Linked DNA regions of Homo sapiens: region 2 is linked to region 1. The links come from fine-mapping of genetic effects on gene expression. Tissue or cell type: visceral fat. Region 1 holds a variant in brackets; the other region holds the start of a gene. All regions are shown on one strand. Distances are from middle to middle.

Region 1 (5,000 bases):
ACGGTCATTCTTTTCCATTTAAACAATGTTACCATCTCCCAAAGAACAGCTTTGGGGTAGGAAAGAACAGTATTTCATTTCAAGCTGGACTACTCATCTACCAAAAAACCATTCTGACCAAAGAAACAGATGCAGAATTACAGTCACAGCTGCATTCTGCACAGAACAAGTTGGATAATGGTATTCTAAATTGCTAATTATACTGTTAATGATTTTTTAAGTGTCATTGCAGTACTTTGCCACCTTTGTTTAAAAATTTTTAAAAAGCATGTAGCAAGTTTTCTAAATGGTAAATTTCTGTTTTGTTAAATACCAGCGTGTCTTCCAAAGAAAAATTCCATATAAAACCCATTTATTGAAATGGCATTCATATGTGAATTTGGAGGAGCCTACTTATTGACTAGCTATTTGTTTTAATTTACTTTCTCACCAATTTACCTGCATTTAAGATTACTGAGGTCATAAGTATCTCAGTATTAGTGTTTCTATCTAGATCCATAGTTGGTATGAAAAGATAATAAACTAACATATGTCATGATATGCTGGCACTGGGAATGTGCTACAACTCAATTTACAAAAAGTAATGGCAACAGTACAATTTAATTTTCATTGTGATAACTGTGGTGCAATTTATTACGGTGTTAGTATTATGCTGTTTAATCCATGCCAGCATAGCTGAGGAAGGTAATTACATTTTTGATATAAAAATGCTACTAATGTTTTCATTTCATTTTAGCAGATTATAGTATGCAGATTAAAAGTACTGCCATTGTCCCATATTGTTTCTTGTACATTTAAGTGGCAGACTATTTTTTTCCACAAATAGTGAATTAATTTCTACTAAATTATTTCATTAAGGTTTTTAAATAATTAATTTGCTTCTTAACTGAACACCTCAAGCTGGCCAGGAACTTCCACATATTAGATTCACAAAAACTAAAATATCTTATATGCAGAAAATGGTGTACCAATCACAATTATATCACACTGTGATATAATTAAAATTATCAAGATAATTTTAATATTTAACGAGATAAATCAGTAGTTAAAAACTGAAAACACAATCTTATTCAATGACAAACTTTTAAGCAAATACTTACATTTTCTTCTAACAGACCATCCAACTTCAGTGATCTTTTAACACTACAAACAAAAAATTTAAAGAAATTTTAGATTTGACACGCTTTATTTAAAGTAGCCCAATAATTAAGGGAAGATATATAAACAAAGATTCTTAGTTCTACCAACCAATTTTTATATTATGTATTAAAGCAGAATACCATATGAAGAAAGCAATTATTTATGATGACAGGTTTGATTCTAATTGCATATCTCTAAATGGGATCATAATTAAATATTTAAATGAGTTTCTTTAAAAAATATATGCAGTTATATATACAAGGACTACCGTACAATTTAAACATCAGTCCTATATTATAAAAACTCTTATAAAAGTTAGTATGTTTGTCTGCTTTAAAATACCACTATTACAATATCATATATAAGAGCAAAATAATTTATACACTTTCAGTGGAGATGTTGAAAGTACAGTACAGAAACAGTGCACTAGGTGTTAAAGGTATGAGCATGGTGAAAAAAAGTTTTGCACATTATTCTAGCTTTAAACATGATTCAGTGCAACCAGACTATGACTTAACTGAGGAACAGATGCTCTATGTCTTTATAAGTCCCCAATCCATAAGAAACTATTTTTTGTTTCCTTCACTAAACTGATTCAGGAATATGCCAGGCTCTCTGTGTGCAAAATCTGTTCTGCTAAACTGGATGCCCAGCTGTTGGTGACAATGCTTAGAAAGGGAAGCTGAATATTTATAATACTTTATTTCATACAGCTGTCTTCTAAAGAGCAGTCATCAACATTTTATTCAATGCAGACTAAATGTTCAAAGGAGAAAAAGGTCAATATAAATTAAAACTAGTTTTTTCAGTGACAAATGCAGTGTTAAAAGTATCTTCCTGATTCTTGAGAAATAGAAATAGAATTAAAATATTAAAGAATTAGAGCATAAAGCAAAAAGATTGTACTATGTTATATTACAGAAATCCCCCAAAAGTTTGTATTGATCTTAGAAAATGACTATTCGTAAGTAACTATTGATTTACAAAGGACAGGAATAAGAAAAAATAGAAGAGATGGTCAATCTAAGAAAATCATTGAACAGTAAATATACAGTA[C/T]AGAAATTTAATCTATCTAAAAGATTATTTTGCTACTATATCCACATTACCCTATCACAACATTATTTCTTGAGATTAAACTGGTTTAAAGAATTATTTATGCTTTTAGAAATCTACTTAATATCAATTTAATCTGATTTCCCAATGAGGCAAGAAGAAAACAGAGGTACAAACAAACTAAAATGCAGATAATTTTTTAAAATTTATATTTAGCTTTGGAATACATATTGCCCTATTTGGGTATGTAAGATGTTCTGGTATTTATAACGCTTCAAAAATAGAAATTACACCAGGCGTGGTGGCTCGTGCCTGTAATCTCAGTACTTTGGAAGGCTGAGGTGGGTGGATCACCTGACGTCAGGAGTTCGAGACCAGCCTAACATGGTGAAACCCTGTCTGTACTAAAAATACAAAATATTAGCCTAGCGTGGTGGTGCGTGCCTGTAATCCCAACTACTCCCAAGGCTGAGGCAGGAGAATCGCTTGAACGCGGGAAGCAGATGTTGCAGTGAACGGAAATCGTGCCATTGCACTCTAGCCTGGGCAACGGGAGCAAAACTGTCTCAAAAAAAAAAGAAAAAGAAAATAGAAATTAAAAAACTAAAGTTAAACAGTACAGCATTTCTTATCCTTTGTTTCTAAATGCTATTAAGATGCAATAGTATCTTTTAGAAGGAGACATATTCCATCCTGATATTAACTGTTCAAAATATTGCTTTGTTATCAATGGTTAATTCTTAGACAAAGTAACTAAATGTTTGCTTTTAAAAAGTTTACAGATTAGGCCCCAGGTTGATCTAAGAAACCCAAGGAAATACGTAAAAAATAGTAAACAAGAAAGTAAGCTGAGTTAAAATAGGCTGTCATCTCCCACTTTATGTTTGGTGACAATCTAAAAATATTATTTACTGAGGGTAGTGTACTATTCAGATAATTCGGACATCTAATAACCAAAAGTTATAATACTTAAAAGAATCCTTAAAAGATATAATAGACAAGACTAGAAGAAATCTAAGAAATCACTTAGTTCAGCCAATAGGGAAAACAGTTTGTGCAACTTGCCTATTGTCACACATCTTGAGGGAGAGAAACTCAGATCTCAGGCCCTGTGCATAATAAATCTTTATGGAATTGAGGGGAAGGGAATTAAAGAAGGGAAGAGAAGAGCAAACCCACTACAGAGTTTATGACCATCTATTCTTAATATTATATTAGAACTGGGCCCAACCACTCTTTTACAACACAATGACGAGAATATACTAAATTGATTACTTTACTGTTAGTAGGAATAGAAGAGACGGATGAAACATATGAAGGAAGAATAGGTAAAATTTGATTAGATATATGGGATATTTTCCTAAAATATTTACTCTTTTGTTACCAGTATTAGCTAACAAAAGTGATATCTATCTGGTAGTTCTGTAAAGTTATAAGCAGCTCCTGTGGCTACTATCTTGGTTTAAAAAAGTGGGCACACAAAATTGGACAAAGGACTTGAATATACACTTCTCCAAAGTGATATACTAATGACCAATAAGCACATGAAAAGATGCTCAACATCTCTAATCATTAGGGAAATGCAAATCAGAACCACAATGAAATATTACTTCACAACCTATTAGGATGGCTACTATTAAAAAACCAAACAAAACAAAAAAAACAAACAGAAAATAAGTGTTGGTGAGGATGTAGAGAAACTAGAATCCCTGTGTACTGCTGGTGGGAATGTAAAATGGTTTAGCAGCTATGGAAAACAGTATGGCAGTTCCTCAAAGAATTAAAAATAGAATTACCATATGATTCCATGATTCCACTTCCAAAAATAATTGAAAGCTGGGACACAAACAGATATTTGTACACCAATGTTCACAGCAGCATTGCTCACAATAGCCAAAAGGTAGAAAAGCAACCCAAATATCCACTGACAGATGAACCGATAAACAAAATGTGATATATATATAAAACAAAATCTTATTCAGCTTTAAAAAAAAGAAATGAAATTTGACATGTGCTACAACATGGATGAACCTTGAAGACATTATGCTAAGTAAAATAAGCCAGTCACAAAAGGACAAATATTGTATTATTCCACTCATAGGAGAGTAGTCAAGTTCATGGAGACAAAAAATAGAATGGTGGTTGCCAGGGGCTAGAGGGAGTGAGGAATGGGAAATTACTGTTTAATGGGTACAGACTTTCAGTTTTACAAGATGAAAAAAAATTCTAGAAATGAATGGTGGTGATGGTTGCACAACAAGGTAAACATTCTTAATGTCACTGAATTGGACACCTAAAAAATGATTAAAATAGTAAATTTTGTTATATATAATTTAGCACAATTTAAAAATAGATAATTTTTTTAAAGGATATCTACTTATTGTGTCCTAATTACCTCCCTTTTACAGGTAACCTCTCTGTGGGTAACTTCTAACTTCCAACTTACCCAAATTTCCACCTATGCCCGTAATTTACAAGTTATATTATATTTCTAGGTATACTAGGTTTAGATTCACTGGGATCAAAATTCTGGTTGCTACCAGAAATACTGCTGTTGAGAATTTTAAAAAGATAGAAAGCATTTGACATGCAATTTTATAGAGAGAGTAACTATGTTTGTATAATTATATTATTCTCTAAGACTGACCTCTTTTCTATTTAGCTTAACATATGGTAGTATCCTGAATAGGATTCTCTGGTTCATCAGAACAGAAAAAGCAGATGAGTTTTATTACACAATGTTATTGACTAACATCAGTTACAGTATTAAAGAAATTATTCTAGGAAAAAAAAACCCTATCATTTGA
Region 2 (5,202 bases), 140 kb before region 1:
CCTTTCTACACTGCCTCTAAACTTGATCTGCTTTACAATTTTGCTATGGCTTATCCTTTTTGCTTATAGTAAATGCTATCATTCAAAATGCATTTTCTGAACATCTGTTATGTAAAGGCACTGGATATTCACATGTGAAAGATGATACCTATTGAAGGTAAAGAGCAGGAGAAGGTATATAGATGGCAGTGGTGAGACAATTCAGCTATGAGTTAGTGACTGTGATGTCTCTTCCGCTATTTATTCATGAACATTTTGAGCATTAACTTTTTGTTAAATACTGGGTCAGAAGCTGTTGGGTTGAGAAACAGGAAGGAGAGATTGATACCAACTTCCATCACTTTAAGATGTATACTTTTTACATATTAATATTTCTGAAATTATATGTTTTACAGTAATTACTAGCTTAAATGGTAGCATTGTTTTCTTCCTCAGTGGTACATAAAATAATGGTGCTTTTTACAAGTGGTGGAACTTTAGATTCAATAAAGTATGATTTTTGGTCTGCCAAACATGGTTCTTGTTCACCAGATGCTTAATATTTATGATCCTGCAATGTAATGGATTTCTCCCTACATTTGTAACCATGTAACATCCTTCACCAATGTGCCTTTCTCCTTTTGGCCTGAGATAATGCATTTATTCAAGTATGGTTGTTTATTTTCTCTCTATACTGTCTCCATCATTATTCAGCAAATGAAACACTTTCATCTCTCTATCTTCACCCCAATTTCTTTCCTGGGCTCTGATTCATAACTGACACCTGAGTATTACAACTTTCTTGTCTTTATGTTACCGTGAACTCAATACAATGAACCATCTTTCCCTCCAAGCCAGATTATTCTCCAGGCTTCCCAAGATCTATCAGTTCTTGGGAACTGTAATGCACACTTGAAACCTTGGGAGCCATCCTTGATTCTTCCCTCTCCTTTGTTTCACTTGTACATATCTAGTATGCTATTAAGACCTGTACACGAGGCCAGGTGCAGCAGCTCACGCCTGTAATCCCAGCACTTTGGGAGGCCGAGGCAGGCAGATCACCTGAGGTCAGGAGTTCGAGACTAGCCTGACCAACACAGAGAAACCCTATGTCTACTAAACATACAAAATTAGCCAGGTGTGGTGGTGCATGCCTGTAATCCCAGCTACTCGGGAGGCTGAGGCAGGAGAATTGCTTGAACCCGGGAGGTGGAGGTTGTGGTGAGCCGAGATCGTGCCATTGCTCCCCAGCCTGGGCAACAAGAGAACAAGAGCGAAACTGCGTCTCAGAAAAAAAAAAAAAAGACCTGTACATGTTTCTTCTTGCATTGATCTCTCCCTTTGCAGTTCCACTATTGCCATCTCAGTCCAAGCCCTTGTCTAATCATGCGTGGACTGCTATAGTCTCCCTCTGATTCATCTGATCCATTTTCACCACTTTAAGTTTTCTCTAACACTGTAACTGTACTGTATACTTGACTCCCTGCTAAAAGTCATTTAATAGCCCCTTACTGATCACTGGATACATTCCAGACACCATAGCCTGGTATTCAAGGCTCTCTACAATTACCAGTCCTTTCCAGCTTCATCACCCACCACCTAAACTAGAGGAAATGTTCTACACTTTTCAGCTGCCACAATATTTGGCTTGAACCATTTCCTTTGTCTAGATTCTTACTCTCATTCTCTGGGCTTATCCAGCCAGGCTTTCCTTCAAAGCTCAGCTGACTCCTCCAGGAAAAGCATTTCCTGATGGTTTGCAGTTTACAGTGAACCCTCTTCTCCTAACTCCTACAGTGCTTAGTGCATATGTAAGTAATGTAACATTTAGTATGTGTTTCCTTCTATAGCTTTTTATCCTTTTATGCATAAAAATGTCTTTCCAATGAGAATTAAATGCCTTGAGGGCAGGGACCTGCCATATTTCTCCATATTCCCAGTGCTGATGGTCTTTTAGATATAATCATATTTTAGACCTGGAAGTTCACCTAGCCCTACTGATTTCTTTCACAGTTGAAGAAACTGAGGCCCAGAGAGAAGTTATTCAGACTCAGTAGAAAGCCATAGTCCTAGCCAAATATTTGCTAACACTTACAAATTATAGGGGTTGGCTTACGTAGAATGGCAAGATTCAGAAGTGGGGAATGAGGGCACTCTCTGAACAAAGGAAGGCAAGTAAAAATCATCACAGCCGTCCATGCGTGATTGGACAGAAGCCTAGACTGAGATGGAAATAGTGGAACTGGAAAGGAAGGGATCAATGCAAAAGGAAAAGTGTGCAGGTCTTACTAACTTACTAGATAGGTATTTTTGGCAAGTTTGGGACCAGGTGATTCAAGCTGCCCGCTGGGGCACGTGTAGTGGCTACTCGAGGGCAGGGCTGTCCTTTTGCACAACGCACAGGCTCTCGCAAATGGTTGGATGTTCAATGTTTCTTACTTTAGGGGGCTGCCCAGTCTTCTTCTTCGCAGGCATGTGGCTAGAAGAAAGTGAAGCAGGTTGGCTTTCTGGCTCCTCGAGGGCACAGGCCCAGAGGTGGTGAGGACCGGCCAAGGCTCTCTGCTCAGTGCAGCAAGCCAGGGCCCGCCCCTGACAGGAATCCGTTGGCTAAGCAGCCGCTCCGGCCTTGGCCACGATCCCAGGAAAGAAGAGCAAGGGGCTTTCCACCTGCCCCTAGCCTAACCCGGGGCTGGGGACCTCTCGGGTTCCATCGGCTCTTGCCCCGCCTCCTAAGCCGGCCGCCTCCTGTCCAGGCCAGGTTGCCCGCCCCTCCCCTCACGCTCGACGGGCTCGCTCCCGCACCGGGCGCGCGGGTGGTGCGCGGGCACACGGAGGCGGAAGGCCGGAGGGGCAGTCCGCCGCGGGGGCGAGCGCGCATGCGCCTTCCTGGGACCCACGGCAGGCGCGAATCCCAGCGGCCGGCGGGCGGCGGGGTAAGAGCATGGGATCCCGGAGGTTCCGGACCCCAGGCCAGTGTGGGGAGGTGCCGGGGGCTCGGACGCGCCACGAGCCGGCGCAGAGCTGGCGACCCGTCTCCCAGCTCCGCTCCACTCCCAGGGACGCGACGCGAGGCCTCCCCAGCCCTTCCTGCAGGGTCGCTTGTGGGTCGGGTGAGGGGACGCGGTGATAGTGGTGGCACTTGCAGGCTGGGGCGGTCCTGGCACCCTTGTCCTTGCGGTTCTGAGGGCCTGGCCCTCAAGAGGAGGGGCGGAGAAACGCGAGAAGGGATCCCTTTCGCCCCATATACACGCCCGGGATAGCTGCACTCCCCGGTGTTGTGTCCACTGCGGTGGAAGGACCTTTCAGACTAAAAGGAGCAAAGTCGGTTCTGGGATGGGGACGGCGGGCTTGGCATTTGTCGAGATGCACCGTCAGGGCAAAGGAGGACGAAAAGCGCATCTACTGCCTGCCTAGCAACTTCGTGGCCAGTGGATGGGTTAGAAAATTACTGTTTTCTGATTTACAGGTGGAAAAAGTCGCAAATAACCCTTTTTCTGGTTTAAGCAGAAGAGAGTCGTTAAAAGCCTCGCATAATATCTTTAACCACACAGGGCTCAGTAAAATTAGGGTACCTCCCCGCTTCGTACACACAGACGCACACAGCTCCATTCAGCAAATACTTCTTGGGTACCTGCCTTCTGCTAACACTGTTCTACAAGTGGGGAACAGAGAGCAACGACTAAGACAGGAGGATCCCTGCTCACAGGGAGCCTTTAGTCAACACATCCAAGTAATTTCCTTTTACACTTTTTTTTTTTTTAATTGAGACAGAGTCTTGCTCTGTCGCCCAGGCTGGAGTGCAGTGGCACGATCTTGGCTCACTGCAACCTCTGCCTCCCGGGTTCGAGCGATTTTCCTGCCTCAGCCTCACGAGTAGCTGGGATTACAGGAACGCACCACCACGCCCAGCTAATTTTTGTATTTTTAGTAGAGATGGGGTTTCACCATGTTGACCAGGCTGGTCTCGAACTCCTGACCTCAGGTGATCCACCTGCCTCGGCCTCCCAAAGTGCTGGGATTACAGGGGTGAACCACTGCGCCCAGCCCCTTTTATGCTTTTTAAATTGGAATATACCATATAGAAAAATACTGTACGCAAATTATAAGTTGTAACTTGTTAATTTATCCTAAAGTCAACACATTTCCTAACCACTACTCAAATCAAGAAGGAAGATTCACAGCATTTCAGAACACCTCTCTGGGCACCCCTCCCAACCACCATCCCTTCTTTCCTCCCCAAAGGTAACCTCTTTCCTGATTTTTAACACCATAGATTAGTTTTGCCTATTTATGAACCTTTCATGGAACCATATGATATGTATTCTTTGGTGTCCAGCATTTATACTGAAAATTATGTGTGTGAGATTGCACCATGTCATGTGAAAATACAAATCCTGTTAGTGAAAAGAATTAGGAAGCAAATTGAAGGTAATGATACAAACAGTAAGGGGAGGAAGCTTTAGTAGGATAGTCAGGGATGATCTTTCTGAGGGGATGATTTGAGATTTGGCATCAATGACAAAAGATTAGCCATTCCAATCAGTTCTGGAGTTATCCCGTGATGTTTTTATTTTAAATAAGAAAATAATTAGGGCCGGGTGCAGTGGCTCACGCCTGTAATCCCAGCACTTTGGGAGACCAAGGAGGGTGGATCACCTGAGGTCAGGAGTTCAAGATCAGCCTGGCCAATCTGGTGAAACCCCGTCTCTACTAACAATACAAAAATTAGCCAGGCGTGGTGGTGGGTGCCTGTAATCCCAACTACCTGGGAGGCTGAGGGAAGACAATCGCTTGAACCCAGGAGGCAGAGGTTGCGGTGAGCCGATATTGTGCCATTGTACTCCAGCCTGGGCAACAAGAGCAAAGCTCCATCTCAAAAAAAAAGAAAAAAAAACAAATAAAATAAAATAATTTTAGATCATTAGGTGGAATGTACCAATTTTGCCCTAAATTTTTTAGTTGATTTATTATATTTTCTGAATATATTTAAAGTGTATCCTGTGGTTAAAATGGTCCAACATTTTTCAAAGAGAAGAGGAAAATGTCAATTTTGTCGATTTGCTTTTTATTTTTTTTTGTTTGAGATGGAGTTTCGCTCTTGTTGCCCAGGCTGGAGTGCAATGGTGCGATCTCGGCTCACTGCAACCTTCACCTCCTGGGTTGAAGCGATTCTCCTGCCTCAGCCTTCCAAATAGCTGGGATCACAGGCGAGCGCCACCATAC

Alleles and levels. Alleles are on the strand shown, and positions count from the first base shown. SD is a standard deviation of normalised expression in the study named.
For the expression in visceral fat of the gene that starts at base 2,852 in region 2, T is the low allele of the variant in region 1 and C is the other (moderate effect, 0.54 SD a copy in GTEx).

The links. PIP is the estimated chance that this variant, and not a neighbour inherited with it, causes the effect.
Region 2: ALG6 starts here. The variant in region 1 is fine-mapped to the expression of ALG6 in visceral fat (GTEx, PIP above 0.99).

What each region holds. Positions count from the first base shown.
Region 1 is chr1:63,507,428-63,512,427 of GRCh38, forward strand. ITGB3BP (integrin subunit beta 3 binding protein) reads right to left here. Exons shown (of 9, transcript NM_014288.5): 2 at 1,101-1,143. It overlaps LOC102724319 (a long non-coding RNA gene), which reads left to right. Exons shown (of 3, transcript XR_426701.4): 2 at 1-180. Among named protein-coding and RNA genes, the nearest start is that of ITGB3BP, 13 kb to the right of the region's middle. The variant C/T (reference allele first, on the strand shown) is at 2,197.
Region 2 is chr1:63,364,776-63,369,977 of GRCh38, forward strand. ALG6 (ALG6 alpha-1,3-glucosyltransferase) reads left to right here and starts at 2,852. Exons shown (of 15, transcript NM_013339.4): 1 at 2,852-2,912. RefSeq lists enhancers at 2,312-2,451, 3,312-3,421 and a silencer at 2,652-3,131.